Homo sapiens: one gene and its partner. The protein of the gene in region 1 interacts with the protein of each later gene in a pairwise test. Each region holds a gene or a part of one and is shown in the gene's direction. Other genes may lie near its edges.

What was found.
Region 2: the proteins of SH3BP2 (region 1) and ARHGAP10 interact in a two-hybrid assay, tested with the Homo sapiens proteins (one large-scale study listed by BioGRID and IntAct).

Annotation. Positions count from the first base shown.
Region 1 is NC_000004.12:2,837,805-2,841,632, forward strand, and holds the end of SH3BP2 (SH3 domain-binding protein 2), read left to right. Parts: 3' UTR 1-3,292; downstream 3,293-3,828. UniProt on the Homo sapiens protein: Binds differentially to the SH3 domains of certain proteins of signal transduction pathways. Binds to phosphatidylinositols; linking the hemopoietic tyrosine kinase fes to the cytoplasmic membrane in a phosphorylation dependent mechanism.
Region 2 is NC_000004.12:148,067,313-148,071,128, forward strand, and holds part of ARHGAP10 (rho GTPase-activating protein 10), read left to right. Parts: intron 1-3,816. UniProt on the Homo sapiens protein: GTPase-activating protein that catalyzes the conversion of active GTP-bound Rho GTPases to their inactive GDP-bound form, thus suppressing various Rho GTPase-mediated cellular processes. Also converts Cdc42 to an inactive GDP-bound state.

The DNA of each region.
Region 1 (3,828 bases):
GGGGCAGTGCCAGGAGGTTGCCTGTCCTTGGGGAAGAGGGGCAGTGACCCTGTGAAGATGCTTGACAGACAACCCCCACCACCTCAGAAGTGTGTGTGAGTGGTGAACCCTTTTAAGCCATCTTCCAGCCATTCTCACTGGAGGGAGATTTGATGGGTACAGAGCAGACCCCTACCTGTCTACCCTCCTTCGGACCCCTAGGAAGCTTCGCAGGCCTTCCAGGCTGCCAGACAGCTGCCCTGGCGTTGCCGTCTGCTTCTTCCCTGGCCCCACTCTGAGGGGCTCAGAGCTGAGGCAGAATCCCTTTTTCATTCATTTCCTGCAGAATAAAACAACATACAGAAAAGTGAATAAAACATAAATGCACAACCTAACACACTGTTAGGAAGTGAACGATCTGCAACCACCATCAGGAAATAGTTTTGCCAGCACCCAAGTGCCCTCCCCTCACAGTGTCACTTCCGGCCTCTCTGCCCTGGCTTATGTGAGTCTTGTGTTCTTGTTTTTCTAAAAAGTCTTCAGCACCCAATTATGCAGGCATTGCAGTATTTTCCTGTTTCTGTGCTTTATCCCCTTGAATCATACAGATGCAAATTCTGGCAGCTGGCTTCTTTGGCTCGTTATTATGTCTGTGAGATTTATTCATGTTGCTGTGCGTAGTATAGTTTGTGCATGTTCATTGCTAAAAACTTCCATTGTTTGGCTGTATCGTAGTTCACAGATTCATTTCACTGTCAGTCAAGCTTGTCCAATGCATGCAGCCCAGGATGCCTTTGAATGTGGCCCAACACAAATTTGTAAACTTTCTTAAAACATTATAAAGATTTTTGTTTGCGATTTTTTTTTTTAGCTCATCAGCTATAGTTAGTGGTAGTGTATTTTATGCGTGACCCGAGACAGTTCTTCCGGTATGGTCCATGGAAGCCAAAAGATTGGACATGCCTGCTGTAGATGGACAGTTGGTTTGTTTCTAGTTTGGGGTAACTACACACAATGCTGCTAGCAACAGTTTTGTCCATGTCTCTGATGCACGTGTGTTTTTTGCAAATGGTGCACAAATTTTTCTAGGGTTTGTACTCAGGAGTCTGACTCCTGGGTTCTAGGGTATGAAGATCTTTCTAAATATTGTTCTAGTTTACGTGCCCACCAGCAGTAAAACAGAATTCCCTTGCCTTCCCATCCTTGGCAGACATTTCACTTTTGCCAGTCTGGTGGGGTGTATAGTTATGGCCTTAATTTGCATTTAGCTAATTACCAAGGAGATTGAGCATATTTTTATGTTTTTATTAACCATTTTGATTTTGTCTCCTGTGAAGTGTCTATCATCTTTTGCCCATTTTTTAACTTGTTGTCTTTTTCTTTTTCTTTTCTTTTTTTTTTTTTCTGAGACAGGGTCTCACTCTGTTGCCCTGGCTGGAGTGCAGTGGTGCAATCTCAGCTCACTGCAGCCTTGAGTCAGGCTCAGGTGATTCTCTCACCTCAGCCTCCCAAGTAGCTGGGACCACAGGCCCACACCACCAAGCCCAGCTAATTTTTTGTATTTTTAAGTAGAGACGGGTTTCATCATGTTATGCAGGCTGCTCTCAAACTCTTGAGCTCAAGCGATCTGCTGGCCTCAGCCTCCCAAAGTTGGGATTATAGGCGTGAGCTACCAGATTTTTTCTTATTAATCTAATAATTCTTTGTATAGTCTTGATATTATCCATAATGTGTATTGCAAATATCTTCTCTAACTCTGGCTTGACTGTTTATGGTGTCCTTTTTTTTTGGGGGGGGTTTTTTGAGACAAGGTCTTGCTCTGTCACCCAGGCTGGAGTGTTATGGCACAATCTTGGCTTATTGCAGCCTCAATTCCTAGGCTTAAACAGTCCTCCCACCTCAGCCTCCTGAGTAGCCGGAACTACAGTCACGCACTTCCATGTCCAGATAATTTTTTTTTTTTTTTTAGAGATAGGATCTTACTATGCCCCAGCTGGTCTCAAACTCCTAGACTCAATGAGCCTCCCATCTTGACCTCCCAAAGTGCTGGGAGTACAGGCATGAGCCACTGTGCATGCCAGTTCTTATTTTTAATGCAGTTGAATTGATCAGTGTTTTCATTTTGGTTAGTGCTTTTTGTGGCTTAAGAAATTCTTTCCAGGCTGGGTACAGTGGCTCACACCTGTAATGCCAGCACTTTGGGGGCAGAGGCAGGAGGATTACTTGAGCTCAGGAGTTTGAGACCAACCTGGACAACATGGCGAAACACCATCTCTACAAAAAATACAAAAATTAGCTGGACATGGTGGTGCGTGCCTGTAGTCCCAGCTACTCAGGTGGCTGGGGTGAGAGGATTGCTTGAGCCCAGAAGGTCAAGGCTGCAGTGAGCTGTGATTGTGCCACTGCACTTCAGCCTGTGAGACAGAGTGAGACCCTATCTCAAAAAAAACCAAAAAAAAAAAAAAAAAAAAGAAAACCACTGAAATTATTTCCACTCCAAGGTCATGAAGATAGTCTCTTAGATTATATTCTGAAATCCTTATAAATGTAAATTTCATATTTAGGCCTTTAATTCACCTAGATTTGGTTTTTTGCATATGGTGTGAGGTAAGGATTCACTTTCATTTTTTTCTCTCCATAGGGTTACACACCTGTCCTATCATTGTTTGTAATCTAACTTTCTGCGCCCATCTGCAATGCCACCTCTGTCATATGTCCACATATGACATATGTAGATCTGTTGTTGGATTCTTTCCTCTGTTCCATTAGTCTGTCTGTTCTTGTGCCAATATCAAGCTGTCTTCATTATTATCAATTATGTATTGAGATCTGATAAAGTAAGTCTTTTCCACCTTATTTTTCTTCTTTGAGAGTGTCTTGACTATTCTGGCTCTTTGTATTTTCATGTAAGGTTTTTCTCCCATATAAGTTTTAAAATCAGCTTGTCAATTCCAACAACAATGATGCACTTGATAGTTTGGGAATTTATTATAGCTATCAATCAGTTTTGGGAAAATTGACGTCTTTACAATATTGAGTTTTCTGATTCATGAACATGGTTTACCTCTCTTTCCATTTGGGTCTTCTTTAAGGTTTACCAATAGGATTTTATATTTTTGTCCATTGTGGTCTTGCTTATCTTAAGTTTGATTTGTAAATATTTTATGTTTCTTTTAGTCTATTGTAAATTGTGTATTTTTAATTTCATTTTTTTTTTTGTTAATAGCATATAAAACACACCTTGTCTTTTAACTGGAGCATTTTGTCCATTGTGTATTTAATGTAATTAAATCTACCATCTTATTTTATGCTACATATTGTCTCACTTGTGTTTGTGTTTTCTTCCTCCCTTTTCTCTCCTTTTCCCCTTCTTTGAGATTGAGCAACTTAAAACAAATCATTTCATTTCCCCCCTTCTCCTAGTTAGAAAGTTAAACACTCTCTATTCTTACTGAAGTCTAGAGTTAACTAATAAATACTTTTATCCTCCTCCTGGACAACATAAGGACCTCAGGTGACTTTCATTGGTCTCCCTCATTACTTGATATTATTGTTGTATATATCTAATTCTAACTCAATGTATTTTAAAACTCTCACCTAAGACCGTATTTGTTTTTTTGTTTTTTTTTTTTTGGAGGCAGAGTCTCTGTCACCCAGGCTGGAGTGCAGTGGCGCCATCTTGGCTCATTGCAACCTCCATCTCCTGGGTTCAAGCAATTCTTGTGCCTCAGCCTCCTGAGTAGCTGGAATTACAGGTGCCTGCCACCAGACCCAGCTAATTTCTTGTATTTTTAGTAGAGACAGTGTTCTGCCATGTTGTCCATGTTGATCTCTTAACTCCTGAGCTCA
Region 2 (3,816 bases), about 150 Mb from region 1:
TCTTCTGTGCATAGTTGATCTCTTAGCTAGTTAAAAGCAGGTGCTTGCCCAGAACACATCTAGTGAAGCCCTTCCTTAAATGGCTATGGGGTCTTCCTGTCTGACAACTGACACTGAGAAGACAGACTGGCAGGTCATCTGACCACGGCTTCTGTGGAGCCAGGCAGTGTTCCAAGTGGCCACTCTAGACAGCTCAGCCCACAGGAGTACTGCCGGGAATGCTCCCTTTCTGCAGACCAGCAATACTTAGTGTCCCTGGAATGCCCAAGACATTTTTCCTGTGTTCACTTATCCATTTGGAGTCTTCCAGCCTCCATAGATGCTCTTGCAGTGCAATTCCTTTTTGTACCTCATACAGGCAACAAAGGAAATTGGTTTATGCCACCCAGTGGCCTTTGGAGAAAACAAACTGGAGGTCAGAGTGACCCCTGGGCGGCCTCGTCAGTAGTTATGCGTTTGGGATGTGTGCAGCTGTGAGATATCCTGACCCAGAGTGTGGTTGGCACAGGGGTCTTTAGCAATTGTGTAGCTCCATGACTGTCCTTGTTCTTTGCTCTTACTGGGTGGGCCTGGACTTAAGTTATGAGTTCCAGTTCTAGGCGGAAGATGTGTTTCTCTAGTAGACTCACTAATGCCTAGCTGTTTCTCTGGGGCTATGCCTCCCAACTCCCCCGCCCCCCACCCTCGGGAGAGGGCTGTGTTTGTAAGGTCTCAGGGCAGTGACGTTCCTGTGATGGCCAGAGGGACCTTTCCCTTTTCTCTGGGCCTGGGGAATCCTGGAAATAGGTTTTGCTGGTGACCACCAGCCAGTCCTGCTGTGTCTTTCCAGTCAGGTGCGCTCCAGTTAGATGGGCAGTGGTTGCCTCCTCAGGGGCAGGGTTGGGAGGGGTGCTGAGGCAGGTGGTTTCCAGGAGCGACCCCACGTGGCAGCGGCAGCAGCAGCGGGACTGCTTTCCTGGCTGTCCCAGGCTCTTTGTCAACATCCACATGTAGATGTGGGGGAGCAGGTGTGGCCCAAATTAATCCTTAAAAGCCTCTGGCGATTAAACTTTAAAGGTCTCAGATAGACACAGAATAATCCCTGGAAAACAATTTGGCATTATCTTGGAAAGCTGATCACATATAGACCCCACAGCCCAGCGATGTGGTTGCCAGATAGATTCCTAGCACAGGGGAATCTGAGAAAAAAATATCGAGTGAAAAAATAAGTTCCAGATGACTATGCGCTTCTGACTTATGTGCTTCTGGTTAAGCTCACACATATGCAAAATAAATAGGATATTATTAGGGATATGTGCTTGTGTGACAAAACTGAATTTTACCCATAGCCATGGTAAGATAATGAGAAACACAACATTCAAGCTACTGGTTGCCTCGGGGTGGGAGATAGGACAGAGCCCAGGACGCAGCCTCCCTGTGGGTCCTGTGGCAGTTCTGAAGTTGAGTGTGGGTTCCTGGCACTCACCGTGTGATGATGACAATTCAGTGATTTCAGTACTTGTCACATACACTGTCTACATTATGCTGAAAACTGAGTTGGTGGAAGGGACCTGCCTCTCTTTGGTGCTACTTGGGGTCCCTGCCTCACACCCGTCTTGTTCCCTGTTGTGGTCTAAAGGCTGTGAGGACACCGTGGCTGAAGCAGGGTGAGGTTCCTGGACTGAGACCTGCAGGCATAGGGAGGGTGCGTGGGAAATGACAGACACTGAGACTGCCATGTTCTCCACCCATAAGAATGGAAAAGCAGAGCCCTGTTGTCCGCGTAGACACTGCTTGGGGGAGGAGTGGTGTGATAAACTAGGAGAGGAGCCCCAGATGGGTATTTTGGGGTTCGATGCTACTGAGAGAGGTCAGATCTTCAGAGAGGGAGGGAGAGCCTGCCAGCCTTATCTGCAACTGCGGAGCCACTTTTCCTGTGCTTGGGGATGCCTTGCTGTTGGTCTCCAGACCCTTGTAGCCCACCTCGCCCACTGCTCAGCTGGGTCCACTTCCAAGGCTCTTGGATGTTACAGGATCCCCCTTGGTCGCCTCTGTAAAGCAGTGACATCTCTCTCCCTACTGGCTTCTGCCTTCCAGGGAGGGGAGGGCTGGGGAGGTGGTGAATGGGGTTGTGGAGGCGTCTCTCTGGTTTGTTGGTTGGGGAGATGCAGGATTCCCGGCCTGGCCTTGGTTTCCCCAATCAAGCCTCCTTTCACCTCCAGCGTTGTAGAAAATCACCTTTTTCCTCCTCTGTTCATCCTGTCTTTTATTAATACCGAGTCTGTGCTTGCGCAAGTGTGTGGTGTGTATAGGGTAGGAGGAGAAATAGTGAGCATGTGCAGGTGAGACTATATTTGAGACTCTCTTACTGCCTCCTCATAGCAGGTCCTGCAAGCTAAGTGCTAGTAACCCCGTATTGCAGGTAACAGCCGAGCAAGGCCCAGGGGTTAATTTCCCAGATGCATCTAGGTAGCCAGGAGTCTCCTCTAGGGCTCTGACTTCAGCCCTGGGCCCCTTGCCACTCAGGCCCCCACATTGTTACAACCCTGAGGGCCTGTTTTGCATAGAATCCAAAGCTTTTCCCTGATGGTGGCTGCACACTAGTAGCACTGCCAGCTGGGGTGTTTGGATGAAGTGAGAAGTCTCTAAAAATCCTGGTATGAAGAACAATGTCAGAGTCAAGGTCAGTGAAGGCATGAAGGAAGTAACTTGCTGCCAGATCGCTTTGAGAGCACATCTCTGAATTTGCTTACTCAGTCATTACACAGATAATCATGTGTCTGACACGGTGCTAGGTGCTGGGTCTCATGTTATATGTGTTACATGCTCTCATAGTCTGGACTAGAAGAGAATGTCTCAGTGTGTCTCTCCTATATATACACGTATGCCTGCACACACGCACACAGAACATGTAGGGTGCATAACTGGGAGCCCCGACCTGGTCTGGAGCCAGGAGAGGAGTCCTGGAAGTGGGGGGATGCTGAAGCTGCTCTTTGAAGCATGAGTAGGTGCTGTCCAGGCATAAAGGCAGGGAATAGCATTCAGGCCCAAGGGAACAGCTCCAGGGAGGCGTTGAAGCCAGAAGCTTACTGAATGTAAGGAAAGTGCAGGCGGTTAGTCTGCAGACAGCCGGAATGTGTTCCTATTCATCCAGGGGAGGGAAGAACAAACAGTTACCTTGTTGCAAAGGACAATTAGAATTGGATTGTCCCTGTCTTCCAAACTGTGGGCAGCTATACCTTAGAGGACCATGAACTCAATTCGCTGAGTTGCAATTAGCATTCAAAGAATAATACTTTTCTACACAAATCTATGGGGAAAAAAAGAGTAGAATACAGAAAGGAAGGCATTGCATGCGCGCAGTGAGGGTAAGAGTATTGCTTCATGAAACTTGTGTGTGTTACGGATGTGTATGCCTGTACTTGGTTTTTGATATGAAATTATTCTCCTGGGTTGTGATCAGAAGCCACCTTTCGAGTTGGTCCGCTGGAGTAGCTCATGCCTCCCCTTTCCTTTATGCCACGGCTGCCACGCCTGCACCTGACCATGGTTGGGGGTTTGAGCTGGGGCCTGCTCACAGCTGGGGGTTATGAAATGCTTCTGTATTGCATTTCCGAACACTGGTGAGGAGTGCTTGGACCTGTGCCCTTTGCTGTCCAGGCTGCAATTTTCTCGTTGAGTATCACGTGAATATTTATGAACAGTCCATTGTGCCAGGCACCATGCCCAGATGTATAAGGCTCAGGCTGCCTTCAGGAGTTTCCCATACAGTGTGGGAGTCAGACGAGACTCTGAGAGGAGGAGGCATCCAATCAGGTCTCTAAACAGGAGGAACTA